Linked DNA regions of Homo sapiens: regions 1 and 3 are each linked to region 2. The links come from fine-mapping of genetic effects on gene expression. A gene starts in region 2. Each other region holds a variant in brackets. All regions are shown on one strand. Distances are between the middles of the regions.

Evidence for each region. PIP is the estimated chance that this variant, and not a neighbour inherited with it, causes the effect.
Region 1: its variant is fine-mapped to the expression of GNPDA2 in esophagus muscle (GTEx, PIP 0.93).
Region 3: its variant is fine-mapped to the expression of GNPDA2 in thyroid (GTEx, PIP 0.95).

Annotation. Positions count from the first base shown.
Region 1 is chr4:44,665,653-44,675,611 of GRCh38, reverse strand. No RefSeq gene overlaps it. Among named protein-coding and RNA genes, the nearest start is that of GUF1, 7.8 kb to the left of the region's middle. The variant A/G (reference allele first, on the strand shown) is at 2,115.
Region 2 is chr4:44,720,808-44,731,688 of GRCh38, reverse strand. It overlaps GNPDA2 (glucosamine-6-phosphate deaminase 2), which reads left to right and starts at 5,133. Exons shown (of 7, transcript NM_138335.3): 1 at 5,133-5,215; 2 at 9,447-9,605. The coding sequence starts at 9,482. RefSeq lists an enhancer at 4,801-4,930 and a silencer at 5,423-5,717.
Region 3 is chr4:44,695,361-44,706,241 of GRCh38, reverse strand. GUF1 (GTP binding elongation factor GUF1) reads right to left here. Exons shown (of 17, transcript NM_021927.3): 15 at 10,508-10,627; 16 at 8,798-8,834; 17 at 5,314-7,698. The coding sequence ends at 7,561. It overlaps GNPDA2 (glucosamine-6-phosphate deaminase 2), which reads left to right. Exons shown (of 7, transcript NM_138335.3): 7 at 3,100-4,447. The coding sequence ends at 3,161. Among named protein-coding and RNA genes, the nearest start is that of GUF1, 22 kb to the right of the region's middle. The variant A/G (reference allele first, on the strand shown) is at 5,539.

The DNA of each region.
Region 1 (9,959 bases), 56 kb after region 2:
CAAGAAAAATGTGGCCAACGTTTTTTAAATAACTGTCTAGAGTCACAGTTAGTGATGAACTAGGGCTGTGAGTCCACACAGTCCAGCTGTAGAGCCTGCACCCTTAACCACTCCAGTAAACTCGGCTCAGCTGAGCAAGGATACAAATGCGGAAAAACACACAATAAATTGGGTTAATAGTCAGTAGAGAACAGGGCCAACATTCAGGACAGTAGCATTTTATTTGAGGCGAGGACTTCTGAAGAGCTTAAATAATTTACAAACTCATAAATCAAGACTCAGTTTTTCTGTAAAAATAAATATATAATATGGAGATTGCACTCATATAGTACATTAATCCACAACTATTGTATGGTTTCTATATTTGTAAATATACCGAAAGGAATATGAGTTTGCTAGGGCTTTCATAACAAAATACCACAGACTGACTTGGTGGCTTAAACAATAGATATTTATTTTCTCACAATTCTGGAGGCTAAGAGTTTGAGATCAATGTATCAGCACAGCTGGTTTCTTCTGAGACCTCTCTGTTTGGCTTGCAGATCAGTACCTTCTGCGTTCTTACAGGGTCTTCTCTCTATACATGTCTGTGTCCTAATTTTCTTATCAAGACTCTAGTCATATTTGATTTGGGCCAATCCTAATAATTTTAAATTAATTATTTCATTAAAGACCCTATCTCTAAATACAGTCTCATTCTGAGATATTGGGGGTTTGAACATCAACATATAAACATGGAAGTGTTGACACAATTCAGCCCATAACAAAAGAGTAATAAAAACAATGTATAAATAACTATCACCTCTAAATTCTGTTTCAAAGTTATTGATATTGTGGAGCATTTCTAGCACTAAAAATACCATTAATAAATGATTAAAGTAGTATCACATTAGCCATTTAAAGCGCTTGCACAATTTTAGAGCATAATCACACAATATTAACAAAGGTTCTCTAGTATTGCTGCTAGGCTGCTAAAATGGTGCCACCATGTGTCTACAGTATAAAATACATCTTTCAATTCACTTTTGAGGCCCATTTTTAAATTATTCTAAGTTTTTTAGACTTTTATATTTTTTCAAATTTTGAGCATAAAAATTTGATCTTTAGAAATATTTTCATATCACAAAATAGAAAGTGTATAGGGTAGAGGAGGAATCATAGAAAGAAGAGTTTGTATCACTTTGTGAAGGGCTTTGAACAGGGACGTACTAGTTAGCATTTCACCATTAATCTATGCAGAAACCATCGTAAGGAAGGAAATAACAGAATTTTTTGCTCTAGGGGGCTTTCTCTAACGATGTGTAAAATGAAAAGAAATCAAATGAGGTGATGAGAATGAAAGGGAAAGAGAGTTTTTTATTTTAATAATCTAGGTAAGACAGGCCGGGCGCGGTGGCTCACGCCTGTAATCCCAGCACTTTGGAAGGCCGAGGCGGGTGGATCACGAGGTCAGGAGATCGAGACCATCGTGGCTAACACGGTGAAACCTCGTCTCTACTAAAAACACTAAAAATTAGCCAGGCATCGTGGCGGGCGCTGTAGTCCCAGCTACTCGGGAGGCTGAGGCAGGAGAATGACGTGAACTCAGGAGGCGGAGCTTGCAGTGAGCTGAGATTGCGCCACTGCACTCCAGCCTGGGCAACACAGCTAGACTCCGTCTCAAAAAGTAATAATAATAATAATAATCTAGGTAAGACACAGTAGAGTCCTGGGTAAATCAGTGGCAGAGAATGAAGAGATGATTAGTGGCATTTTGGAGACAAATTTAACAAAATTAATTTGATGTAGAGAGAGAGAGAAGGCCAGGATAACTCCAAATTTCATCTTAAGAATGCAACCTTGAGCTGTTAGAAACTATATTAGTGTTTGTTCAAGTCTTTTGATATGTGTGTATGGGTGGGAGGGGGGAGGATGTGGATGAAATCAGTTGTGCTGAGAGTCTGTAGTTTTTATAGCCCAAGGTGGAGACTTTGCCAGTAAATGGGCTCAGAGGAACCTGGCTATAGTTAGTCAGGAAAAGTATTTTGTCAATCTTCCTATTTCTCTTATATACTTAATATTTTTTAAATTAACTTACCTTTTATATGTAAATGAATTTTTAAATAGAAAACTTT[A/G]TATGATTAATATAAATCGAAACAACATAATAACCTGTTAAAAACTAACAGTATCAGCATAATGAATAAAAAATGTGATTCATTTAGAGTTGGATTTCTTTTGATTAAAAAGGGAGATTAGTCAGCATTAGAGAAGAACTGTAAAATATTAGCACCAAAATAAGGTGTTGGCTGGAACAAACAGATTCTTTTGGCAACTTTGAGCTTTCCCAGACTGAAACTCAAGGAGGCTGGAGTCATCATCTGTTTTTCTGGAGAGCATTGACTAATATAGATGCTTAGAGATAATTTTTGAAAAATATAAGTACAAATCCATATAGGCTATTCTGTTTCCTCAAGGCATGTTTCACAAAAGGGTACCCTCAAGTGTATTGAGTTCTTCTCTCTTCTTTTCTCAACAACTTTATTTCCTACCCTCTGATTTCAAAAAGTTATCTAGTACCACAGTTTTTTAAAAAATTGTTTACAGATGGTTTCCAGAACTCTAGCCCTGAATTATTTTCCCTAAACTCGATTTATAACTACCTATGAGATACTGAATATTAAAAACATCCTAACAGCAATGTTATTCTCCAGTCTACCTAAGCTAGATATACTGGTTACAATGGCTTCTCACATTACTTATTCAAGGTGCGTCACACACTGTCTGACATGCTAGGTATATATACTGGCTATTCACACACACATACACACAAAATGTATATATATATCTATAATGTGTGTATATATAAATATTTACACACACACACATATATAGCCATGCATGGCATGTACATGCATATGGAGACAGAGAGAAAGAGATCACATTTGAGATTTTAAATAATTGACTCACACAACTGTGGAAGCTAGCAAGCAAGAAATTTGTAGACCAGGATGGCAGCCTAAAAATTCAGATAAATGTTGATGTTGCACTCTTGAGTCCAAAATCTGCAGGGAATTCAAAATCTACAGGAAAACTCAGGCAGGATTCCTTCTTTAGTTTATCTTTTACCTCTCTTGTTTTACTATAAACAACAAGGAGAAACCAGGCTGCACCTTCAATACTTTGCTTAAAATTCTCCTCAGTTAAATATCCAAGTTCATCATGAATAAGTTCTTTCCACTCTATAGAACACAATTCAACCAAATTCTCTGTCACCTTTTCTTCAGTTTCCATTAACATGGATCACCTATTCTCCAGTTTCCAATAAAATGATCCTCATTTTTGTCTGATACCCCACCACCTTTAACATTTATATTTCTAGCAACATTGTTCATGATGATGTATGATCTAAGATGATAGAAGCTTTCTCTCCAGGTTTACTCTTTATGAGCTCTCCACAGACTCTCCTTTAACATCCATATTTTTTACCAACAATCTCTTCAAGGCAATTTTGGCTTTTTCTGCCATTTTCCTCAAAACTCAGTCTTTGCGCATTTCTTAAGTTCAAAACAACTTATACTTTTTAAGATATTTCTTGCTGAAGCAGCCCACTTCCTTTTGCCATCTGTATTAGTTTTCTAGGGCTTCCGCAAACTGAGTGGCTTAAACAACGGAAATCATTATTTTATAGTTCTGGAGGCTAGAGTTCAATTGGCAAGGTTGGTTTTTACTGGGAACCAGGATAGAGAATCTGTTCCATTGCCCCCTACTAGCTTCTGCTTGTTTCCTGGCAGTCTATGGCATTTCTTGGCTTGTAGCTGCATCAATCCAGTCTCTGCCATATGGTGTTCTCCCTGTGTCTCTTAACATAGTCTTCTGTCTGTGCATGTCTCTGTGTTCAAAATTTCCGTTTTTATAAAATACCAGTAATATTAAATTAGGGCCCAACCTAATGACCTCATTTTAACATGGTTATCCCTGTAAAGACCCCATTTTCATATAAGGTCACATTCTGAGGTACTGGGCATTAAGACTTCAACATATCTTTCTGGTGGGGACAGAGTTTAACCACAACAGCATCTAAGAGTTGACCTCCCGGCAGGCCCAAGGTCAGTAGCCTTCTGTCTAAATCTTGATCCTGGTTAAGAATCTGGACGAATCTCCTCTTTCAGAGCCTCAAAAATGAATCAGCCTGAGACTTTGTATCATAATTTATGGTAATTTGTAAAAATTACCTTAAAATTAGCCTTAAATCCAAAGACTTTTAATGATAATTACTTTTAAAGTATTTATGTTCAAGCAAAAACATTACCAACCCAAATACTCTGAATAGATACTTATTGGTAGTTCTTAAATGGTCATAGCAATATTTCTTTTCTGAATGCTGTCCCCAGAAACTCCATTGTTTTAGTTTTCTATTGCTTTGTAACTAATTGCCACAAATGCAGCACCTCAAACAATACAGATTTATTAGTTCACAGTTATGTAGGGCATAAGTACAGCATGGTTCATTTGGATTCTCTGCTTAGTATTTCACAAGGCTGAAATCTGGGATCTAGTCAGGCTGGACTTTTACGTGGAACCTCTAGGGTAGTATCTACTTCTGAGTTCATTCAGGCTGCTGGCAGAATTCAATTCCGTGTAGCACTGAGATACACATTTCCTAGCTGGCTGTCATCAGGGGGCAGCTCTCATCTCCTAGCGCTACTCACATTCTTTGGCACGTGGCCCTCTCCATCTTAAAGCTAGCCATGGTACATCAAATCCCCACTGAGCTTCAAATATCTCACTTCTTCTGCCTTCAGCCACCAGCCAGAGAAAATTTTCTGTTTTAAAAAGATTCATGTGGTTAGATTAAGGCACTCAGATCATCTCCCTATTTTAAAGTCAACTAACAAGTGGCCTTAATTATATGCCTTTTGCTAAGGTGACACCCAGCAACAACCACCAGACATATGGACTCAGCAAGACTTCACATGATTCCAGCATTTAGTTTCTGAGCTACCACAGATTTTGCCAAGCAGAGCAGGGAAGAGCTCTCCCCATCAGCACAGCCCAAATTGCAGATTTCTGAAAAAGATAAATGTCTCCTTGTTTAAATTCAGTAAATTTTGATGTGTTTTTGTGTGTGTGTGTGTAGCAATGACTATCTGTAACAACTTATGTACATATATTTATTTTATTCTGAGAAATTTGCGTTCATTGATTAATGTATTAGTCCATTTTCATACTGTTATAAAGAACTGCTGAGATTGGGTAATTTATAAAGGAAAGAAATTTAATTGACTCACAGTTCAGCATGGCTGAGGAGACCTCAGACAACTTACAGTTATGGAAGAAGGCAAAGGGAAAGCAAGGCACCTTCTTCACAAGGCGTCAAGAAGGAGAAGTACTGAGTGAAAGAGTGAAAAGGGAAGAGCCCCTTATAAAACCATAAGATCTCGTGAGAACTCACTCACTCTCAAGAGAATGGCACGGGGGAAACTGCCTCCATGATTCAATCACCTCCACCTGGTCTCTCCCTTTACAGATGGGGATTATGGTGATTATACCTCAAGATAAGATTTGGCTGGGGACAGAATATCATTTATTAATCATTCAATAAATATTAGCTGGATGTTTACTACATGTCAGACACTATATTAAGCCATGGGAATGCAAAAATGAAATAGGTATGGTTGTAGTACTGAGAGAATTTATGATAAATTTAAAAAGCCATTTTATAAAAGATAATCATATTACAATGTTATAATTTTTATGATAGAATTTTCAATAAAGTATTATAAAGGAACAGAGAAGAGGCCTCTTCTACAGCCAGATAGTGGTGGTATCAGGAAAGTCTTTGCATGGTGGGTGACAATAATACTTAGTTATACACATTAATAAAGAACTTGCTATGTGCCAGGTGCTCTTCTAAGCACTTTGTAAATATCTCAATTAATCCTCAAAACAACATTATAAATAAGTATTATTGCCCCTGTTTTACAGATAGGGCAATTGAGCTTGGGCCGGTTGAATAACTTGACTGAGTTCATGCAGGTCGTATGTAGTGAAGGGGCATTTAAACACCACTCTGGCAGATTTGAAAACTATTCCCTTGACCACAGAGTTATGTCCCTAACTTGGGGGCAAAGGATAAGTCAGATTCAACCAGGCTGAGATGAAAGTAAGGTGTGACGTTCTAGATGGAAGATCCTACGTGAGCAGAGGCATGATATATGCAGGAAACAGCCAGCACTTTTAGGTTGCAGGAATTTAGAGTTTGGCAAGAAGTGAAGTTGAAAAAGAAATTAGGAACCAGACCAGGGAACGAGGAGCTTGGATTTCATGTTCCTGGTAATTGTAGCCACTGCAAGGTTAGAAAGATTTTACACAGAGGAGTAGCGTAGCAATTTTGTGTCTCATTTAGATCATTTTCACAGCTGCTTGGAGGCAGGGAATAAATTAGTTTCAAGAGATAAATGATGGCAACCTACATGGGGACAGTGATACTGTGTCTGCAGAAGAAATGAATTTGACTGGATGGTAAATTTATCCTGCCTTAATATAGAATATGAAAAAAGCAATTGCATATTACAAACCCAGAGTAAAGAAAATTTTTGCATTTCACACTTGAAATGTATCATCTGATTCCTGGTTTCCATTATGCCTCCATTATCATCTATTAGTTAAAAAAATTAAGCAGGGCAGGGGAGAGGGAATATTTTGTTTAGTTTTGCACTGTGGAGACTTGTGTCATTCTTGTCAGATGAAGACCAATTCAACTACTTTCTAAGCTTGTTGTTATATTATTCTAAAACAAAAATCTCAAAGCAAAGTTTATTGTTCTCCAATTCTTTAGTGAATCTTACTGATTCAGGAAGTTAGTCATAACTGAAAATGACTTGTCTCTGGCATCCTTCCTTTTGCTCTTTGGCATGTACAGAAACTTGTTTGATGCCTTAGCTTAAAGTCTTTAACCTGGAGAAATGATATGCTACTCATGAACCAAAGTATATCACACAGGAAAGGCTTGGCTATTTTTCCACCCGTCAGGTAACTTTCATAAACCCCAAGGCAATGCCCAGGCAATGGCCGTGGCCTTTGTACTGTCATATATTTGGGAACACACATATTCACTCATACATCTTTCAAAGGTGTGTCTTCTTCAGAAGGCTATGTCGTGGAGCATCGGTATTTCCTTTAGGAGCACATCATTAAGAGTTTTGATAGATTTCACTATTAAAAATAAAATATTATAGTATTAATGTGTGATTTTTATCACAATAAAATACTAGGAAGGATAAGATTAGAAGTGTTTAAATTGAAAAATATCCTGACCCAACATATACAACAATAGCTAAATAAAAGGCATCAATTAAAGACACTTTGGAGGCTGTGGGGTGCAGTGGCTCATGCCTGTAATCCCAGTGATTTGGAAGGCAGAGGCAAGAGGATTCCTTGAGACCAGGAGTTCAGAGCTTCAGTGAGCTCTGATTGTGCCGCTGCACTCTAGCCTAGGTAATGGAGTGAGTCACTCTATCTCTTGGTGGAGGGAGATGCTTTGGTTGTTAGCTATGTTTTTACAGGAAGGTGTATTATAAACTTTAAGTTACAATTATACAGCTTAACCTGGTCTAAACAAGCAGTTCTATTGGCTTATATCACTGCCAAGTCTCTTTAAGCCTTGGATTTATCAGGATCACAGGTCTGTTTCTCTGATAGTCCATTGGTTCTGCCTTCCTCCATATTTGGTTTATTTTTATCTTACATCCTTAAAAAATGCGTGTCAGAAGCAATTGAAACACTGTTTTTTCTTATTGAGATACAGGGAGAGAGCATCAGTTTTCACAATTAGTGAAATAATCTTTTTTTGAGGTGTTGATCTGGATCTACTAGTAGCATTATGGAAGAAATTCTGATGTGAGCCCCGGGGCTCTTACACAATGTCGGCAGGGTGTTCCCCAAAAGGAAAACTGGGTGCTGACAGGAAATGAGAAGGTGGATTGGATATTGAGTAGCAATAAATGTCCATTACAAGGATTAAAGGATTCTTAAGCAACCCGGAAGAGTACATTTCTAAGTGCACAATGCCAAGGAAAATAAGGAAATTAATTTTCCTGTGACTTTGTCTTTTTAAAAAATTACTTTAGCATCTATTTCTTACCTGTGTTATTTTTTGCTTCTCTGACATTTTGTATTCTTATGTGAGTCATTATTTGCATAGTACTGATCAATTTTTTTCTCTAATAATTCCTCCTATTTTTGTCACTAGTTTTAGATTTATTAAACACCTCACAGTAGTATTCATTCATTTGAAAGTGAATTATCTTAGAAAAACATCATTTCCGTTTGTGCTTGTTTCTCTATGGCAGTTGTGGAATTTAATATTTATTTATGCTCACAAGGAAGGGAATTGTAACATGTTGAATAAAGAATATGAGAAATAAACACTTTTAATGTTGCACTAGGAACATGAAAAAAAAGAGAACTTTTCTTTTTAAGGCCTAAAAGGATTTATTCAAAAGAATCCCTGCAGAATCTAGTAGATTCGAGTTTGCAATAAAATGTCTTAGCAGAAATTTTTGGCACATTTAGGCAGTATACCAAGCAGCTTTGCAACACAGATAATGTCTCCCATCAGAAGCTTCTGCTGTGGCCATGTTAAAAATATAAATATTTTTAGGTACGCTTACAGTACTTGAAATATTTCAGTAGATATAGGGGGTGTCCTTATATACCATATAATCCAAAAATATAATTTTATTGCTTAGAAAACTGACATGCAGAGAAACTAAGTAAATTGCCATAGGTCACACAGCAGGAATAAGAGAGCTTACATTATAACAGAAATACAATGCTAGCCTACAAGTTTACAGAAGTTATTATTAGGGAAATCTCTGTGACAAAACTTGATGGCTATCTTAGTGGAAAAATTTGATGATGTTTTCCCCTTGGAAAAAGATGAGCTGGAGGCCCTCTGGTACCATGTTAAGTTTTGTTATATGGATGTAATGTCTCCCATTTTCCTTCTTTGTCATAATAGATGATTTAGAGAGAAATAGCATGAGCATAATACATCAAGAGAAGACATTAGAATGGCTACAGGTTTGTCTTGTCAGGTAAATTATCTGGTTTTCTTAGAAAATGAGAATTGCACCATGTTGACATGACATATGTGAGGATAAGATCTTATACATTTAATTAGTTTTTTAAAAGATTTTGGTGTCAAGACATATTTAAGTTTGTCAGTTTTACTGACGAGTTATTGTATTAGTTACCTACTACTACAGAACAGCACACATTTTTTATCTTATAGTTTCTTTGGGTCAGGAAACTGGGCATGGCTGAACTGGGTTCTCTGCTATACAACCTATCACAAGGCTGCAATTGAGATATCAGACAAAGATCCACAGTCTCATCTGAAGACACAACTGAGAAAGGATTCTTTTCCATGCTCATTCAGTGATTTGGGGCTGTATTCAGATCCTGTGGTCTGATGGACTGAGGACCTCATTTTCTACCCATCCGTGAGAAATGGGTTGGGTAGAAAGTGAGGCCTCCCTTATTTCCATGCCACCTGGGTCTCTCCCATATTTTAGCTTGCTTCATCAAAGTGTGCAAGCCACAAAGGCAATAGAGTCTGCTAACAATATAGAAGTCATAATATTTTTCATTTAATCACAGAAATGGCATCCCATTATCTTTTCCATATTTTATTGGTTAAAATCAAGTAATCAAGACTATGCTTAAGGGGAGGGGATCACACAAGAGCATGAATACCAGGATGCTGGGATTATTGGTGACCACATCGGAACCTGCCTATCACAGGTAGAAAACAACCTTTCCAATAAAGACTGTCAGTAAAACTATTAATATTATTCTGTGAAAACCACAGTGTGATATCCACAGCCTAAAATTCACAGCCTAAAAACATTCTCAGCAATAGATTTTTATATAGAAACACTGATGCAATGGAAAGAAAAAAAGATTTTAAGCTAGTT
Region 2 (10,881 bases):
CCTTGAGAATTTTAAGATTTGAAGTCACCGCTTCCCTTTCCTCCCTGGTTAAGGGAACAGCTCCCACAGCAGCTGCTCATGACCTGTGCCCTGACTGATCCCTTCCACCCCCGTTCCCTTGGCACCCTGTTTTGGCCACTGTGTAGGGCCACAGACATACCCTAAATGTTAGCCAGTGTAAACAGGATAGTTCTCAAAAACAGCGCTTATCAAGCTATCTGTGGTGAAGGATATATTTTTTTTAAATTTTCAATTTGTCACAAACCAGTGCTTTTGTAAAATATGATAAAAATGAATAACTGGAAAAATAAAAGGAAAAAAGACACAAAATACAAGCCCAAATTTTTCTAGTTACATAGCTAGCACATCAAAATCATGACATCTGAAGAAAAAGTAGATAAACTGGACTTCATCAAATTAAAAAAATGTTTTTCCTTCCAAGGACAGTATCAAGAAACTGAAAAGATAAATCATAAAATAGGGAAATATTTCTAAATCATATATCTGATATGGCTCTACTATTGAGAATATATGAAAACCTCTTATAATTCAACAATAAAAAACAAATAGCCCAATTTAAAAATCAAGAAATGATTTGAATAGACAGTTCTCCAAATAAGATATCAAAAGTGCAATTATCACATGAAAAGACGCTCAACATCATAAGTCTTTAGAGAAACGCATATTCGAATCATTTCATATCCACTAGAATCACTATAATAAAAAAGATAGAAAATAACAAGTGTTGGCAAGGGTGTGAGAAATTTTTAATCCTCATGCATTTTTGGTGGAATATGAAATGGTACAGTTGCTGTGAAAACAGTTTGGCAGCTCTTCAAAAAGTTAATCATCTAGTTACCATATGGCTGAGGAATTCCACTTCCAGGTATATATCCAAGAGAATTGAAAATAAATGTTCACACAAAAACTTTTGTTTAAATGCTCATAGCAGCAGGAAACAATCCAAATGTCTATTAACTAGCAAGTAGATAAACAAAATGTGGTATATCAACACAATGGAATATTACTCTGCAATAAAATGTAATGAAGTACAACATGGATGGAGCTAGAAAATATGGTGCAAAGTGAAAGAAACAAGACAAAAAAAGGCCACATATGGATTCCATTTATATGAAATATCTAGAATAGGCAAATCCACAGAGAGAGGAAGTATACTAGTGGTTGCCAGGAAATCAGGTAGGGGAGGGAGAATTGGAAGTGACTGCTAACAGGTGATGAGGTCTCTTTTGATGTGGGGTGGGGGATAGAAATAGAAAAACAGAATTAGATAGTGGTGATGGTTACATATCATTGTGAGTATACTGAAAGTCACTGAACTGTATACTTTAAAAGCCTGAGTTTATAGTATGTGAATTACATCTCGATGAAAATTATGTAATAGATAACCTGAATAATCCTGTATTTATTCAGGAAATTGGATTTATAGTTAAATTTTTTCAAAAAAGAAAACTCTATGTACGTACGGCTTCTCTAGTGAATTCTATCAAGTATTTAAAGAATACATTATGTTACTATAATTCAACACAAATTATTCCAAAACATTGAAGAGGGAAATTTTCCCACTCAATTTATAAGTTTGTTATTACTATGATACTAAAACTAGACAAAGACTTCACACACAAAAAAAAACTAATAAACAAAAAAACTATGGACTGATATCCCTCATACACATAGGTGTAAAATTTTTAAACAAAATTTTAGAACATTGAACCCAACAATAAATGTATAAGAAAGACCCTGACCAAGAAAAACAATGACCAAATCTAATTTTCTCCAGCAATAAAAGTGCACTCAACATTGAATTCACCAACATATTAGAGTGGAAAACCATACAACCATTTCAATAGATACATAGAAAGTGTTTGACAAAATTCAACATCCATTGTTGATTAATAAAACAACTATCAGCTATTAGTGAAATGCCTGATACCAAGGCTGGGTAGGAAAAATACAAGGTACACTCAGAGTCGTTCCGTGTTGGAGTCTTCATAACATACAGTCATGCATCACTTAATTATGGGGATACATTCTGAGAAATGCATCTTCAGACGATTTCATTATAGTGTGAATGTTATACAGTATATGCACACAAACCTAGCATATATACACAAACTACACATATATGGTATAGCCTATTGCTCCTAGACTACAAACCTGTACAGCATATTACTGAATACGGTAAGCAATGTAACACAATGGTATATATTTGCATATCTAAACAAAGAAAAGGTATAGTAAAAAAAAAAGTATAAAAATTAAAAAATATTAACAGTACACCTGTATAGGACATTTACCATGAAAGGAGCTTGCAGGACTGGAGGGTGCTCTGGGTAAGTCAGTGAATGAGTGGTGAGTGAATGTGAAGACCTAGGACATTACTGTACACTACTGTAGATTTTATAAACAATGTAGAGTTAGGCTACACTAAATTTATAAAACGATGTTTTTTTTCTTCAATAGTAAATTTAATTTCCTGTAGCTTTCTTACTTTATATTTAAATTTTTAAAAAACTTTTTGGCCGGGAGTGGTGGCTCACGCCTGTAATCCCAGCACTATAGGAGGCTGAGGAGGGGGGACCATGGGGTCCGGAGATCGAGACCATCCTGGCTAACACAGTGAAACCCCGTCTCTACTAAAAACACAAAAAATTAGCCGGGTGTGGTGGCATGCGCCTGTAGTCCCAGCTACTCGGGAGGCCGAGGCAGGAGAATTGCTTGAATCTGGGAGGTAGAGTTTGCAGTCAGCCAAGATTGCGACACTGCATTCCAGCCTGGACAACAGAGTGAGACTCTGTCTCAGAAAAAAAAAAAACTTTTTGACTCTAGTAACAACGTTAAGGTTAAAACACACATTGGAGAGCTGTCCAAAAATATTTTGTTTCTTTATATCCTTATTCTATAAGTTTTTTTATTTTAAAATCTATTTTTAATTTTTTTCCTATTCAAATTTTTTTGTTAAAATGAAGACACAAACACACATGTTAGCCTAGGCCTACACAAGGTCAGGATTATCAATCTCCCTGTCTTTCACTTTCACATCTTATCCCACTGGAAGTTCATCAGGGCAATAATGCACATGGAGCTCTCATCTATAATAACAATGCCTTCTTCTGGAATACCTCCTGAAAGACCTCCTTGAGGCTGTTTTATAGTTAACTTTTAAAAATATAAATAGGGCCAAGCATGGTGGCTCACGCCTATAATCCCAGCACTTTGGGAGGCCGAGGCAGGCAGATCACGAGGTCAGGAGTTCGAGACCAGCGTGGCTAATAAGTGAAACCCCGTCTCTACTAAAAATAAAACAAAATTAGACGGGCGTGGTGGCAGCTGCCTGTAATCCCAGCTACTCAGGAGGCTGAGGCAGGAGAATTGCTTGAACTCAGGAGGCAGAGGTTGCAGTGAGCCAAGATTGTGCCATTGCACTCCAGCCTGGGTGACAGTGCGAGACTCTGTCTCAAAAAAATAAACAAATAAATAAAAATAAAAATAGAAATAGAATGAATACACTCTAAAATAATGATAAAGAGTATAATATAGCAAATACATATACCAGTAACATAGTCATTTATTATCAAGTATTATATCCTGTACATAATTGTATGTGCTAGACTTTTATGAGACTGGAAGCACAGTAGGTTTACACCTATGTAGCCACAAACACGAGTGGTGTTGCTCTACAACTTTACGTTTACTACAATGTCGCTAGGTGATAGGAATTTTTCAGTTCTGTTATAATCTTATGGGACCATTGCCAAATATCCAGTCCATTCTTTACCTAAACTTCCTTATGTGGCACATATCTGTAATTCAAGACTGTAATTCAGTCTCCACCTTTCTACAGCATTCTTTCTAAAACACGTATGTTCTAGTCTCTTATCTTCAATTCATAAAGCTTAAGTGACTCCCTATTGCCTACAATACAAAGCCTAAATTCTATGCATAGCCTACAAACTACTTCATCATTTTACCTCAATCTTTTTTGGAGAGACAGGGTCTTGCTATGTTGCCCAGGCTGGTCTCCAACTCCTGGGTTCAAGCCATCCATGCACCATGACCTCTGAAAGTGCTGGGATTACAGGCGTGAGTCACCGAATCTGGCCAAAAATCGCTTTTGCAAACTTACTGAAGGCGATAGTACTAATAAACCTGTCTATTATCAGTATGTGAGCAATGTTGCTGTTTGAAGCTAAATCAACGAGAATGTAACATCCTACTCTTCACTAAAGGATGCAAGAGGAGTCATTACATTCAAAGAAGCAGGCTGGATTTACAACCCAGGTGAAAAACTTCATATAACGAGTTTGAGGACACAGCGTTTTACATTTTTTTAACTTGTAGTTTCCACAGAAACAGAACCTTAAGTTGGCTAGGAGTCAAGATTGTATTGTTCCTAACAGAACCCTAAACGGTGTTATTAATGGAACAGTGTTCCTGATGGAACATGGTGAAGACACAACACACTTTTCTCCTTTTGAATGATAGCTGCTTTCTTTACAATAATTTCCACAGCCCAATTCCTTCCCACTCCTGTATAAACATCTGTGATACCCAGCTCAAAGCTGATTCCAGCTTCCCCTATCCCTTTCTTAGACTCATTCAGCAAAAGCCAGTACCCTATTATATAGTGTTTTCTCTTACTGAGACGCTCCCGATTTCCCATGGTACTGTTTGCCCTTTTGCAAACTTTGATGAGTTTTTTGACACAAGACGCTTATCTGTCATTGCGTTTGCAAATATGCATTCAATAGCTTGGAGTAGAGAGAGAAATGTATTCATAAATGGCAAATATATTCATGTTGCCAAACAGCAACATAAGCAACAAAGTACGTGTGAGCACTACGGTCTTACATACTAAATCTCATAAGCCTAAAGAATCTACTGCAAATCCCTCTTTGAAAGATGGGGGGGAGGGGAAAGTAGCGTAAAGTGATGACCCAGAAACTGCGATCTTCCAGGCAAGAAGAGCGCCCAGCCGCACCGCACTCGGACCGAACTCCTCGCGTCTCACCTCAGGCGTCCTAAAGGCGGTGCGCATGCGCAGCGCCCGCCAGCCACGCCGCGGTTCCTTCCTGCGCCTTTATCTGCATCCGGGTCCGTGGGATTCGCGCTCCACTGGTCAGCTGGGGTCGCTCTCGGGTGGTTGGGTGTTGCTTGTTCCCGCTGTTCCAGCATCGAAGAACCATTGGGTCTGCCGGTAAGTTTAGCGGGGGGTGCGGCGGGGGCGCCAAGAAGGGGACTCGGGTCGGGGGACCCGACGGCAACTTCGCCCTGTGCGGCCTTTGTGCTGAGACTGGGACGCCGGGCCGGGGCGGAATGGGTGCTCAGGAACCTCGAGGCTGGGGGCGCGTGGGGTCTCCCGTATTGCCACTCGCGGACCTGGTTGTCCTCTCCGGATTTGTGCCTACGGGAGAAGGCGTCCCTGCCCTCTCCTCTCTCGCGGCTTCTTCTTGACACCTCTCTCTACACTCGTTAAAAATTCCTAACAGTCATCCTCATTTGCATTCGCTGTCCTTTGCCAAGTGAGGGCCAGGCAAACGCGCAGCTGAGGGGAATCTGCAGCCCCCGCCTCCCGGGCAGGAACCACAGCCTTCTTTGCTGTCTCTCGTCCCTCCTCGGGTCGGTCCCACACGCGCGGCCAGGCCACCCTTACGCTTTCAGGACAGGTCAGGTTGAGTAGGGAAAAGCTCAGAGCAGAGGTTCTGCAAGTGTAGATTCTGGTCTTGGCCCCGCCATTAACTAGCTGTGTAACTTCACGGGTGTAGAAGTTGTCATCCACCATTGAAGTTTTGCGATTTATATTCAGCAGCCCTTTTTCCTAGCGATGCACATCCAAAATGAATCAGCACCTGAAGGAAGACGAGGGAAAGGGTGGTGCTCTGTTGTTTTTTGATGCTGTCTTGTGATGCCAGAGAATTGCATAAGGCGACAATAGTTTGGATCTCTGAGGATTGGCAAAAACTGGAAAAGTCAAATCTTAAAAACTTAAATGTGGTGAAGAAATTCTTCTTTGCTCTGGGTGAAGGGATTCATTTGGGACTTTTGGAGGTGACTCTGCGCCCTCCAGAGAGTTTAAGAAAACAAAAAGTTGCCTGTACCTTGGTCTGAGAGACTTGCTTAAACTTCGTTTCAGTGAGATGTGTGGTGTTCTTAACAAATTTCACCTGATTATGAATATCCCCTGTGATAATTTGCAAAAGCAGAGATTCCTTGGACTTCATTTCAGATCTTTTGAAACACTGTGTCTAGGGAGAGGGACCTGAGAATCTGTATTTTTAACTAGCATCGTAAGTGATTCTCAACCGGTAAGACATCTTTGGCTAATGTCTCTTTGAGTCAGAAACACTTAGTTTTAAAGCCAGCTCCCCGGGCCACTTTTTAACGTCAGCAATAAACTTCTCGTAGTTGCAGTTTTCTGTATATGAAGAGTGAGAATAATGCTTTCAACCTCAGAGACAAGTGATTCTAAGCCCTTTGACAATAGAGTTAATCATTTTTGTGTCTACAGAACCTAGCATAGTGCTTAGAATATAATAGGTCTTCAAACGTGTGTTGAACTGAGAAAAATAACATGCCCAGGATGCAGAAGACATTGGAAAGCTCTAATGCTTCTCGTCCTCCTTACCTTATTTTTTTTCCGTTTTATTAACAATCAGCTGGCCATATATTCTTGTTAGAAGTAAATATATCTTTTGATGTTCATTACAGCCAATAATTCTTTCTGATTCTTTGGTTTAACTCTAAAATTGTTTTTGACATTAGATTATGGATTATATTTAAGTGGAGGCTGAGTCCAGTTGTTGGACTGAATTTATGACTTACTATGTAATTTATTTTCTGTAAATAAATAATTGTTATCGGGCCAGAATTCTAGATCATGGTGACCATGATTTTTTGTTGTTGTGTCAGAATTCGAAACTGTTACCTTCTTAAAGACATTTAGATTCCATACATTTATTTTAATAAGACCTTTTAATCTCATTAATTTAGAAAATTTGACTTATTACTCTATGTAAAGTGTGTGGGTACAAAACTCAGGAATGCTGAAACCATGTTATAAAAAGCTTGGTATTGGTGACTGATCCATTTAATATAAAAATAAGAATTAAAAATCTAAGAATTATGGGAATTATTACAGAATGTTCAGTAAATGTTATAAGGGGACGTTTATAAACTATTGATGGTAATGTCAGTTCAACTTCTGTAGAAAAAAGTATGAAGATTTCTCAAAGAACTGAAAATAGAACTACCATTTGATCAGGCAATCTCACTACTGGGTATCTACCCGAAGGAAAATAATTCATTATATCAAAAAGATACCCGCATTCATTTTTATCTCAGCACTATTCACAGTGAGGCAGTAGAATAGGGTCTGGAGGCAGAGGACTTAAGGCCAATTCGTGCTGACTTCCTAAAGCTAAATCAAAGGAAAACACCAAGGTCTGGGGGCAGGAAATCTAAGGCCAATTTGTGCTGACTTCCTAAAAGAGAAAACACCTGCGTCTGGGGGCAGGTAACCTAAAGCCAGTTAACCAATTAACGCAAACTTCCTAAAGCTAGACCAAAAGGAAAAAACCCATCTCCCCATGCCCAAGTAGCAAAGGACCAAAGGCTACTCTCCCTACGATCGACTGCCTTCCACCACCTCTCAGATGGAAGGGGAAAGTGCCTTGGATTGTCCGTGGACTAAGCATGGGCCATCCCTTCATCTGCATAGGGAGCCAATTCACCTCAGCCTTTAATTAGCCACGGACCAAATCCTTCATGCAGATAAGGGGTAACCGATAAGGGACCTCAAAAGGAGTATTAAAACCCAGAAAACTTTGTAACCGGACCCTTGAGCCGCTTGCTTGGGCCCACTCCCACCCCATGGGGTGCTTTCTTGCTTCAGTATCCCTGCTTTCGCTGCTTCATTCCTGTGTTTCGTTCCTTTTGTGCAGTTCTTTGTTCAAAATGCCAAGGAACTGGACACCTCACACTCATGACCTTCCTTCCAATAACAACAGTAGCAAAGATAAGAAATCAACCTGAGTGTCCATCAGTGAATGATTGGATAAAGAAAATGTGGTATATATATACACCGCGAAATTCAGCCATTGAAAATGAAATCATGTCCTTTGCAGTAACTGGAGGCCATCATCTTAAGTGAAACAACTCCCAAATAGAAAGAAAAATACCACATGTTCTCACTTACAAGTGGGAGTTAAATAATGTGTACACGTGGTGATGGAAAGTAGACTGATATTAGAGGCTTAGAAGGGTTGGGGAGTAGGAGTGGGTAGATGATGAGAAATTGCTAGGATCATTGTACATTATTCAGGTGATAGATACACCAAAACCCCAGACCTAGTCACTAAATAATATATCCATGTAACAAAATTGCATTTGTACCCCTTAAATTTATACCATTTTTTTAAAAAAAAGGAAAACAATATGTCTTACAGATAACAGAAGCTGTGAGTTACTGTAAGAATGCTGATTTCCACATCTTTCATGGTATAAGTCAACCTACATTGTGTAAAATGGAATTATGTAGCTTTTAAGTGACTCCGATCTCTTAATATACGTATAATAATTTTTCTTAATTTTAGAATAATTTTTGAGGAACTAAAATTGCTTTTTGTCAAGAAATTTCTCCTCCAGAGATGAGCAGTTTATTTAGTTCACTTTGTTTTCTTTTTCTTCTGTTGAATTCTCTTATTAAAAATAACATGTCTAGTGTGATCCTATTGTTATAATTTGAATTCTGACCTTGTTGCTTACTACCTGTGTGACCTTAGTCAAATTATGTGAGTCCATTTCCTCATCTATAACTGGGCATTTTATTTACTTCACAAGATGGTTGTAAGGATTAAAATATGTACACTTGTCCCTAGTATCTGTTGGGGATTGATTCTAGGATCCCCCTTCAGATACCAAAATCCACAGATGCTTAAGTCCCTCATATTGTATGACATAGTACTTGCATATCACCTGCACCCATACTCCCATATACTTTATCTCTAGATTACTTATAATACCTAATACAATGTAAATACTGTGTAAATAGTTGTTATACTGTATTGTTTAGGGAATAATGACAAAAAAAAGTCTGTACCTGTTTAATACAGATGCAAACATCTTTTTCCCCTAAATATTTTCAGTTCTTGGTTGGCTGAATCCTCGAATATGGAATCCACAGAAGGCTAACTATACTTAAATGACCTAGCCCACTGCCTTAAACTCAGTGTCTGCTCAAAAGAGAACAGCTATTACTATTTTTTAAATTCAGATTGTATATGTGCATGTCCTTCTTCAGTAATGTACTTTTAAAAATCATCAGTATATTCTGTTTCAGTGCTCTATTTATTATTTACATCTTTTAAAAAGTTACTGAATTTAAATTATCTGTTTATTATGTAAAGTGTTCTACAATGGACTTTTCTCAGGTTTGAACTTGTTCTGGAAGCTGTGCGTCACCGTAATGAGGCTTGTAATTCTTGATAACTATGACTTGGCTAGTGAATGGGCAGCCAAATACATCTGTAATCGCATCATTCAGTTCAAACCTGGACAGGACAGATATTTTACACTGGGTTTACCAACAGGTAATTAACTACTTTTTCCATTTTATATTCTGATATTATCTAAATTTAATTCTGATGGAATTGAAGGGTTTCTTTTAAGATACTTTCCCCATTCATTTATTGGCATGTCACTAATTGAACATCATAGTATAAAAGGCCAGAAAAATGCATATATATAAAATCTACTATCTACAATGTGTTACTAGTTCTTGTGCCAAAATTTAGTCTCACCTGTCACTCCAAAATGCAATAGGAAATATTGTAACTTAAGTGTTGTTCATATTTTTTGTACATTTTTCTAGTAGTCCTTTGTTTTGGGGAACATTGCTTTTACCATTCATACCAGTTTTTAGTTGATTGGCTTTCTTATTAATCATTAAGAGGTACCTAAGGTATGTACTGTTGCCTCTTAATTTAACTTCACCTGCCTTATAAATCCTTATTAATATAGAAGTTATAAATTATATATTATATAATGTTTATTAGCCTTTTACTATTTGCTTCTTCTATTATAGATGTATTACAAGTGAAAAATATATCTTCATCACAGTAATTACATATTTTATTGAATTCAGTTTTCCATTAAGCATTCTCTTAAAAAACGACTAGGTGGTGTCATTTGATCTTATGGCACTTTATTTGACCCATGATTTTCACAGAGTGTTAGACCTGGAACTAAAGTTGCTCCTTATTGACTACAAGGCATTTGTTCTATACCCCTGAGCCTTGGTTTCCTTACCTATAAGAAAGATAAGGATAATAACTTAAGATGCTGTTTTGAGATTCAGCTAAGATAGTGTATGTGTAAGTCCCTTGTATACTGTAGTCTATAAATTTATAGTTCCCGTGTGTTTTATTTAAACAGACTGTTTTCTCCAGCTCCTCCCCTCATACATGGTAATTACATAAAAACTACAATTGTAATTTTTTCCCACTTGAGTAATTTCCGTGAATGGTACTCTTCAAGTTGATTGTTTTGTTTTGCTTTTTCTCTTTTGGTCCAGGGCAGTAGATCTTGGTGAGAATGGCAAAAGGGTTTTTTTTTTTTCACTGGACACACCAGTACTACACCCCCAGCACCCTCAGTTCTGATATGTGACCCCTTGGGGTTGAACGTGGTTTCTGTATAGTTTCTATACTGTTACCCTTCATTACACTCAGCCTACCTCTGTTAATAACATTGTGTTAATTATGATGCAGAAAAAAACAGTAATTTGAGTGGGGACAGAAAGACTTAGTCTTAAATGTCAGCAGTGCTAAACATCTTTTTGTGTATTTAGATCTACAACGTTTGCTT
Region 3 (10,881 bases), 25 kb after region 2:
ACTGAAAAACTGAAAAACTGAAAAATTTCTGATTTGTGAATAAAAGAGCATTTGATGGAGTTTTAACTCTATTTTCCCATGTAACCCTTCAGATTTCATCCCAAATAATAGATTCCTTGACTACAAGGAATCCTCACTATCCACAAATTTTAATTCCAGTTTTAAGGAGATTCATTTAACATGGCCATTTTCTAGTCCTCATTAAGTCCCAGATAAATCCCTGTACTAATCTAATTTTGTCACAATTAGGTTTTTATCAGATTTTTATATCTTGGTGAATATTTAATAAGATATTTAATAACAGCCAGTATCTCTATGACCAGGCACTATTCTAAATGCATTTTACTTATTGATTTACTTATCACAAAAATGTTATGAAATGGGTATTCATAGTCCCATTTTTAAATTAATAGGCTTAACAGACAGAGACGTTAAGCTACTTACCCAAAGTCATACAGCACATATTTGGGCAGAGCTGGGTAATAGAAATCAAAATCAGGCTGATCTCTGGAGTATGCAGGCTTTTGTCTATTCTATTATACTGCCTCCCAGAATAAACTCTAGGTATGATACCATCTACATCAAAACCATATTTCCATCTGCTTTTTTCCCATATGATAATCACTGCTTCCAAAAAAGGTATATCGACATATGTTAGATAATTTAAAATAGAAGGGTGGTAGATGTTTATATGTATTTAGTTCTTTTAGTTCATCTAATTGTAAGCTCTTCTGAAAAATTTTGAAACAGACCATTCGTGAGAGGATAGCTGCACTGCATCAAGAGGACACAGTATTTTCCACTTTGGAGCTGTCTGTATTTCTGAAGAGGTTTCAGGGTATCAGCCTGTTAGGATACCTCCTTCAATATGAAGACAGAATTTAGACATTCTGGGCTACATATGGGCCTCATTTTACAGCATTTTAGTAAAGGGTAGAGAAATTGAATATTCTTAAATAAACACATTTCAAATGTAGTTTGTATACTTTTCATACCTCCATTGAGTTACTAGTATATCAAAATACTGGAGGATGTAAATTCCTATAATTGTCATCCATAACTCTTCAAATTCCATTCACATCACTACCCTTTCTTCTGTCATCACTAAAAAGTGCTGACCAGAATCTTAAAGGGTTTTATTTAGTGCCTAGATAAGATCTAGGTTAACTAGATCCAAAACAATAAAAATTGTCAGTAAATGCAAGTTTATTTCAATATATACCTATATAACGGTATATACCTTTTGAAAGATACAAGTTAATCACAAGACAACAAGTTTAGTACGTGGGGATTTGTTTTATTCATTCTCGCTTTTCATTTTTGCTTTTTAAATAGAACAGCTTTGATTTTTAGTATATGACATCATCATCATGAATTTTTTTCTCTTACTTTGTATTTAGGCTCCACCTCAGTAGTTTGACAAAGGTAGAATGAGTTCATTTTGAGTCAAAACCATAAAAGTTACTTTGTATAGACATTGGTTAGAATCTGTGACATTTAACCTTTCTTCTGGTAACGTTTCAGGAAGTCTGGTGCATTTTTATCAGAAGAATTATTTCTGTTTGACTTAAGTAGCAATTATTTATTTATATAAAATTCGTATGTAGAAAGTTGTCAGTTTTTACCTAAAGTCACAGTAAATATTTGACTTAATATCTAAAAAGCAATTAATAGAATTTTCAAAATAATTATTTCTAGTTTGGAAGCAGTCCTATTTGATGTATAAAAGATATATCCAATGTAAAGAAAAAAATTTTATAAAGGAGTTGAATTTTTAATATTTACTGATATTTTAATTTGCATGTATTTTAAAGCTCTGTGTATTCTTTCCGTAATCAAAGTTGTTAGCAAATGACAGATGAATACTATTTAAGTAGAAAAACGATCCTCTACAAAGTGATACTCTGGAAAATGTTGCATCTTCTAAATCATACAGCTGATATTACCCTTATCTTTGTTGTCCCCTCTCCTACTGGACATGAAGTTTCAGGTGACCTTCAAGTAGGCTGTTGAGCAGTTGCAGGACTAGTGAATGGAATGCTTCCCCCTTCCCTCCTTTAGAGTCCCATTCTTATGGTTAGAATTTCTCCTACTACACAAACACTTCCCAGTACTCTTTGCTTGTCCCTTAAAAGTGGGTCTTTCTCAAAGCTGGGATTTTAGAGTCCTTTTTGCAGCCTTTCTGACAAGGAACATCTGTTTACTAACAAGCAACCTATCTCTCCAATCCAGTAATCCCATTTCCTGCAAAACCGCATTAAGTGCCTTTCCCCACCCTCCCATGTTCTTAATACCTGGAAAACTTAACTCATTTCTTTACCCTCCAAAATATAAAATCTCTGGTTCATTAACTGGGTCAGTCTTTTTAGAACTTTTTTCTCCCCAAAGAAATATAGTACTGAGGCATTAAAACAGGAGTAACTGGAAGATCAGCTATTTCCCAAGCAGCTTCCATAGCTAAGAGCAGTCTGCAAGTATATGTACCAATTACAAAATGAAAGTTATAATCTACCGGATTTAAAATCGTAATTTCTATTCTGAATTAAATGATTTAATACAGGTTGTTTTCTGTCTTGTTTTAGTAACCCTCCCTCAGTGTAGAATTTGTAATCAACCTTTGTCATAAATACACATGCCAAACTATTGGAAAGTAATTTACCAGACGAATGGATAGGGTAATGTATTAAGAGTGAGACAGCAGTTCTGAGCCCCTGGCTGGAGTCTAGTAGAGGAACTGCCAGAGGATCAATATCAACATAGACTTTTAGATATAATTAAAACCTATTATCTAAGTCAGTATTCAAATTTGTCATGCTTAATCTCTTTGAAGACAAGAAATGCTCTTCTGGTTACTCCCAAAGTACCTGTACACATTCTAGATCTGCACTGTTACATAATTATAAATTGGTATTTGCTAGGTAGATAAAACTTAAGACATTCTGAAACATTTCTATTTGTACTTTTTCAATAAACTTGACTATATCAAGATGGGAACTAAACAGGCTTACTGTGTCTTATAAAAAATACTTTGTTGTCTAAAGTAAATGAGATAGTTCAAAATTAATAAAAACAACTAGAACTGTGCTTTTTTTCTTTAAGGTCTAATGCATGTGCACAATAAACTTGTGGATCCACTATTCAGTATGAAAGATGGAAACTGAAGGAGACTGGAGCAAAATTCAGCTTGAATGAACAGAGCACTTTTTACTAAGTAGTAGATGAATTTTCAGCTATGCAATATGACAAAACATGGGGAATTTTGAAGATTGTCATTTTTTCATTCGAGTCTCTATGTTAAACATTCCATATTTTGAATATTTATATCTTGTACTTGGGTTTAAGAGAAGTAGCTGGCTCTCAAGATTGACTGGCTATTTATTATAAAGTACTGAAGTCACATAGCCACCTATAAAACAGCATAGAAATGTCTGCCTGTTTAAAAAGTCATTTTAAAGGTAGAGTGTCCACATCAGGCACCATTTGTGATATGACTCCAGTGGCGTATATTTCATTTTTTAATGACAAGACACTCCAAACCTTTCAGATAACAAACTATCATTGCAGACCTTCACTTTTGGAATGCAATCTTTATATTTTCTGTGCATCACACACATGCTTTTCTGCACGTGGTTGCCTTAGTCATCTTCCTACAGCACCATCTAGACATCAAAAATTGTGCTATATATCATTGGTAAAGGAAATTTGAAGAGATGACAGTGCCTAAAAGTACAGTTTACATCCTTTTGGAAAGTATGTGTAAGTGCATGTTTTTTGTGCACCTTCTTCTATAGCACTTTTTTACAAATATCTTATTTTTATTTAACGACTTGGGTTCATGTCCCTAATATAAGTATCTTGACAATTATGAGCTTTATACCTAGCAAGCCACTTCAGGAAATTCTTTTGGAGAATATTTTCTGATTATTGTTAAACTTAATATACAATTAGCTTTATTCCTTATAAAATGTCTAAAAGAATAATACGAAGTATATATAAAAGGAATTACTGTAAACTACATTGCCATAGCAATTTACATAAAAGTATATTGTTTTTTATCTTTAACTCAAATAAAGCGTGTAATAAATAAGTTATCTAAATTTCCAGAAGTGAACCTGAAGAATACATGCATTCGACTCCCAACAATTATAGTACATGTGAACCTGCATTCATTTTGGGTTTGTTACCATCATGCATTAGGAGAGTTAGGTTAAAAGATGTCTTTGCCTCTGTGGGGAGCAAAAAAATGCTCCTTTTGCTTATTTTGCATTTCATAAGCCCACCTGGTAGAAGAAGCCTTACTTATCTGCTTGTCTATGTGATTAAAATGTAGTTTCTTAAAATATTAAAATAGCAAATAAATTAATGAAATAAAATTGGTAATAGGGTTTTATGGTTAAAAGTGGGGGATGGGGTAAATTATGCTGCTTTAATTCCAGATGATGTTTTAATAGCCTTATAAATGTTTTTTAAATAACTAGTGAGTAACACTCCACTTACACTTCCAGTAATAAGAATCATTTACTACAAACTATGCTGACTACCTTAGAAAGTCATACAGCATCACAGTGAAAAAGCTAAAGGTACCTGTTGTGCTACATGATTCACCAGTAATTTCTCTGCTTTAAAGGTCTAAAAATTCTCCTTTCCATTTTCCTTCCCTTGATGTTAGGGGCTTAGTTGAGGTTCATGTACTCAAGCTCCTCCACAAGCTGAGGAGCGAAAACTCTGGCCATTTTCATTCCTGCTTTCATTCCCTAAATTGAGGAGCTAAGCTGCTGTTAGGCAAAGAACCTAGCTTTTTCAAGAAACCAACCACTGAATCCCAGCTCTGTCAGGGAAATAAAAAAGTCTCAGCTACTTCCCCAAAATTTTTACATAGATTGAATAAGGGAAGCATACATAGCTCAGCACAGTGGTTGTCACATATTAAAGTCAATAAACGGTGCTATTTTAATATTGATAACAGTGTTTAAACATATTTCAGTGTTTGCTAAAATCTTAGTAATATTAAGTCCTCTGAGGAATGCACTTATAAAGCACACAACTCCAAATCACTAAAGTCATCTGACTGGGAAAGCGGGAAGGGGAAAGAAATTAAGCTTACAGAAAATGCTTTTTTGTACTACAACTAAAACTATAACTAAAACTACTTTTTTGTACTACTATAACTAAAGAGTCATAGGTTAAAAAAAGGTAAAATTAGTCTGAATAAAAAAGACTAAGACTGGTAAATTATTAAATAGCAAGCACATAGTACATATTACGTTCCAAGAACCAATTTGTAACTTATCCTTTGGCAGTGATAGAACAGAACACTTTTACAATTTTTTAATTTCAAATACTGTCATTTTCAAAATACTACTGTCATGGTCTTTCAGATTTCATCTGTTTTTATCAGAACCTGGAAGAGGGAGGGAAGATACATAAGATGATAATGTATGTATCTAGGACTATATCACAGGCTACTTCTACACATGATTTTAAGTAAATCTCCACTTAATTTATAATTAAAATGATTTCACAATAACTGTAAGCTCA[A/G]AATATCTGAGACAGCTCTCAAGTCAGTTTAGAAAGTTTATTTTCCCAGGGTTAAGGTGTGCCCATGACACAGCCTCAGGAGGTCCTCACCACATGTGCCCAAGGTGGTTGGGGCACAGCTTGGTTTTACACATTTTAGAGAGACATGAGACATCAATCAGTATGTGTAAGGTGTACATTGGTCTTGAAAGGCAGGACAACTTGAAGAGGGGCGGGGGCTTCAAGCATAGGCAGGTAAGAGAGAAAGGGTTGCATTTTTTTGAGTTTCTGATTAGCCTTTCACTGAATATACAATTTACATGTGAGAGGAGAGTAGAGGAATAGTCAGTTATACCTTAATCTGGCTTAGTGAAACATGAAACAGAGAAAGCAATCATTTATGCATTTGTTTCATGTGAAGACTTTGAGTTCTTTGTCCATAAGGAATTCCCTTGTGAGCAAATTTTATCTTTGTGGCTGTCTTATTTAGGAATAAAATGGGAGGCAGGTTTGCCTCAATCAGTTCCCAGCTTGACTTCCCTTTGGCTTAGTGGTTTTGAGATTTTTCTTTCATATAACCTTAGTATAAAATTCATCCTTGATAGTGTTTATCCCTAAAAGACATTTTCTTCATTCAATTCATTCAAGGTAGAAGATAAAAATCAATGGCTAAATGATGTTGTCTTGCTCTAATACAGTCTGCAGTCTGGTTTGTTCGTTGGCTGAATAAACATGGGAGCTGAGAGCTCTGGAGAAATACAGCCATTTACTGGCTGTGAAATCTCAAGTTAACTACTCTAAAATCGCTTCGATTATGAAATTTAGACAATAATTATTAAAATGTCATTATGAGTTCCTGGTAATACCAAACACCTGTCATTTTACACAAATGCGTTTTGAATGTCTGAAAGACAGCTCCTGCCCTTAATTTAGATGTAAACCATTTAGTTTCAAACTAACCACCTGATAAAATCTATAAACATTTTATCATTAACTAGAGCAGATGTCTGTTATTTGATGTCTATGTTATTTGAGTTTACTGTTTAATAAGTGAATTCATATCAATTAATCCTGCTAACAAATTTGACACTTAAGGTGATTCTGAAAATCCTTTAAACTTAAAGTAGATGGAATCTTAAGTATGGGGCCTTTTAGTGTCCGTAAAGAAAAACTGCATGCAACAAAATATAGCAGGTCCTCACTTGTTGAGATTCATGGAAATTGTGACTTTAAATGAAATGACATGGCTGGGCATGGTGGCTCACACCTGTAATCAGCACTTTGGGAGGCCACGGTGGGTGGATCACGAGGTCAGGAGTTCAAGACCAGCCTGGCCAACATGGTGAAACCCCGACTCTACTAAAGATACAAAAAATTAGCCGAGCATGGTGGTGCACGCCTGTAATGGAGGCTGAGGCAGGAGAATCTCTTGAACCCAGGAGGCAGAGGTTGCAGTGAGTCGAGATTGTGCCATTGCACTCCAGCCTGGGCGACAGGGCAAGACTCTGTCTCAAAAAATAAATAAAAATAAAATGAAATGACGCATAAACCAATTTTTTTTCCTCATCGATGTTACAAACCACTTAAGGAAATGACATCATTCAAGAACATTGTGCTACGTGTCATTTTGCTTAAAGTCAGTTTCTAAGAACCTTTCGATGGCATTTAAGGACTTAACTGTAGTTACAATTGAGTGCTTACTATGTGTCTTGCACCTCTGAATATTTAACGTATTACCTCATTTAATCTTCACAACAACAACTTATGTAGGTAGTAGTATAATCTCGATTTTACTGAAGAGGAAACAAAGGTTAATCTGGCCACGGTCACCTTACTAGTGAGTGGTTGGAACAGATATTTGAGAACAGGCAACATGGCTTCAAAATCTAAGCTCTTGCCTACCCACTAACTACTCCCTTTCAACGAAAGACTAGTAGGTTATTTGAACCTGAATACCCTGAAAGTAACAAGCAAATTTTATAATTTTCTTTCTGTTGTCAGCATATTACAAATTGCAATGAAAATTCTTTGTTTTCCCACCAATTATTTAGAAGATTGTGTTTTCAGAACTTTTATAAAAGCATCTTTTGGAACTTCAACGTTGCCAATTTTCCTCAGCTTTTTTTTCCCTTCTGCTTGTCTCTTCAAAAGCTTCATTTTTCGGGTAATATCACCACCATACTGAAAAATATTTTAAAACATTGGAAGTCTAAGTCACTCTAAAGAGAAACAATCATATGATTACAGCGGCATCAGTACAACCTTAACAACCATACCAAATTATTATCCATAAGGCAGACATCTCTCTAATCTTCCTAGCAGATCTAATTTTACTGTCTTCTCAAAGAATGATACAGGATTTAATCTGGATGGAGGTGAAGATTCCCAAGGAAACCTAGTATAATAATATGCATGTCAAGGAAGAATTATCAATCTCCTTACTGATTCTAGGCTTGGAATTTTGACTAGAAAGCCACAGTCTAATATAGGTAACTCTTAATCACATAGGAATAAATGTGCCTTTGGAGAAAGAATTGATCATTCAACTCTCACGATATTTAAGAATAATTTTTCTTTTTTTGAGATAGAGTTTCCCTCTCACCCAGGCTGGAGTACAATGGCAGGATCTCTGCTCACTGTAACCTCCGCCTCCTGAGCTCAAGCAATTCTCATGCTGCACCCTCCCGAGTAACTGAGATCACAGGCATGCACCACCACGCCTGGCTAATTTTTGTATTTTCAGTAAAGCTGCGGTTTCACCATGTTGGCCAGGCTGGTCTCGGAACTCCTAGCCTCAAGTGATCTGCCCATCTTGGCCTCCCAAGGTGCTGGGATTACAGTTGTGAGCCACCGAGCTGGTGCAAGAATAATTTTTTAACAGCTGAATAACAGCAAACTGGCAAAACAATGTCAGGAGAGGTAGACTTCAACTGTAAGATAAAGCCATTGTTTTCAAAATCTTTCATTATATGTTAGATCAAGAAAACATGTTACCCAGATCATAGAAATAACTGTTGTAAAAATCTTCCTTAGTATTACATATAAGAACAATTTTAATAAATATTTTTGTAAATTTTTATAAATAAGATGAAAAAATACTTAAAAGATATGGGCAAAATGAACAGGTTGCCATGGTCAAGCTGAAATTTACCTATTCAAAAAGGGAACTTGGAAACAAAGAATGTATAAAAACCAACAATGGAAATCAATAAGTTTATGCCCCCTTTGATTTAAAGCCCATAAAAGTTATAAAGTAGAATAAATACAACTAGATACATACACATTTTGCCAAAACGTTTTTCCTATAGGCTTTCACACTGTAAAAGAGAAAAATTCGTTTAAGTACATAATTCCATTATACTGTTTAAAAGCACTTCCTTACCAAAAACAATCTCCCCTTTACTAGAAAATTTTAATGATAGTATCATTACCTATGTAAAATTGCCATAAGCATATTAATTAGATACTTCAAATGCTCTTGTATTTATTTTCATGTACTTGGTATAAAAGAACAAATAAATTCAACATGTTTATCAACACACATTAAGAAAAAATGGTCAAGGCTTGTGGTAGGCTTGATTAGGCCAAATTCAAGCATGATGTGACCTTGATTACAAGAAATACATTAGGTTATTTTTTACTCAATCTAAAAATTACCAATCTAAAAATTAACACTACTACTTCAGAAAAACAAAATATGTTTATTATCTTATTACTGCCTCTACTGAATGTGGATGGAGTGGCTAGGAAGCTTGATATATCCACCCCAGCAGTTATAAACTAATCTATTTCTACAATGTTTGAGAAATTTCTAGATCACTCTAATTTTGAAAATAGCTCCATCTTTATGTATTCCTTAAGACAGAAAAACCAATTTTTTAAGGTATTATCTCAACACACTTATTTTAGAATGAGCAATTGCTAACTGTCTTAAATTGCACTTTCCAGGATGTTCCCTAGTTATCATTTCTACTCTGCCTGATCTCAGTATTTACAAAACACAGAATAACTAACCAAAGCAAAACAGTGTTAGGAAATGAAATGTATTTCAAACAGTGGGCCTAAAATTAACCTCAAGTCTATATTAACATGATGGTTGTATTTCCTCATTAGGTTTGGGTTAAGGTCGAATTTAATAGCAATTTCCAGCTTTTCATAACTGAGGAGATACTTCCTATTTCCTAGAAGTCTTAGGATCATTAAGGAAAGGAAATGGGAAGTGCTACAAGACACATCCTGCACCTGCTGTCACAAGCAGAGCAGCTTATTCAGTGTTCTTCATTGTTATTTTTGGGTTTTTGTTAAAAAACTGGGTCTTACTATGTTTCCCAGACTAGTCTCACAGCAATACTCCTGCCCCAGCCTCCCAAGTAGTTGGGATCACAGAATGTGAGCCACCACACCCAGCCAGTGTTCTGATTTATGTATTACATTTCATGAAAGACTAGTGTCCGACACAAATTAGCCTGTCTTCCATATCTACTATAATTCATGTGAGGTCCCTAATCTAGAATGCAAATCCTAACATGGTATTGGCATTCCTTGATTTATAACCTCCCTAGCTCTGCGGAAGTGGGGAAGCAATATTAAATGCTTTGGGTTAAAAAAAAATTGTAATTTTGTCATTTGGAAGACAAAACCTTTTAGTTTCAGTTTCTATTAATCTATAATCTACCTAAAGGGATAAAACCATAAAAGAAATTCCTTACCCAGGAAATTCAGTATAGACATTGATATGAGTGGAAATTAAAACAGTTCCTCAAACTCGTATACGTTATACTAACTGCAGATCACATCACCCAGTGCTGTTATATAAGTAATTCAAAGTAACAGTCATTACTTAAATCAGAAAACTGGAGAGCACCATCATACTGTTTCTACAAGTAAGAAAGCTTAGGCCAATGTTAAATTAAAATGTTCAATATTCTTTCACTTTTTAGGTATATCATTTCTGAAACTGGCTCAAGACCAAAAATGAATTTCAACTCACGTTTCTCTTGCAATGATTTTACTTCCAATAGCAGCTTGAATTGCTATCTCAAACAGTTGCCTAGGAAGAGAATCCTTCAGCCGTTCACATATGGCTTTGCCAATTGAATGAGCTTTGTCTCTGAGACAGAAAAATACAACTGTTTATATATCCTAAATAAGAATATTTCAAGTATTTTTCTAGGCCAGTTGCATAATCAGTGTAAAGGTGATCTCTTAAGGAGGTTCAAATGGAACTTACTTATAAATCTCTCTTACTCTCTGAATCATGAACAACTTCTCTGATTTAAAAAAGTAATGTATGATTACAGAATATTTAGAAATACAACATTAGACAATAGAAACTGTTCTTGATTCTCTTTCCTTACCCGCTGA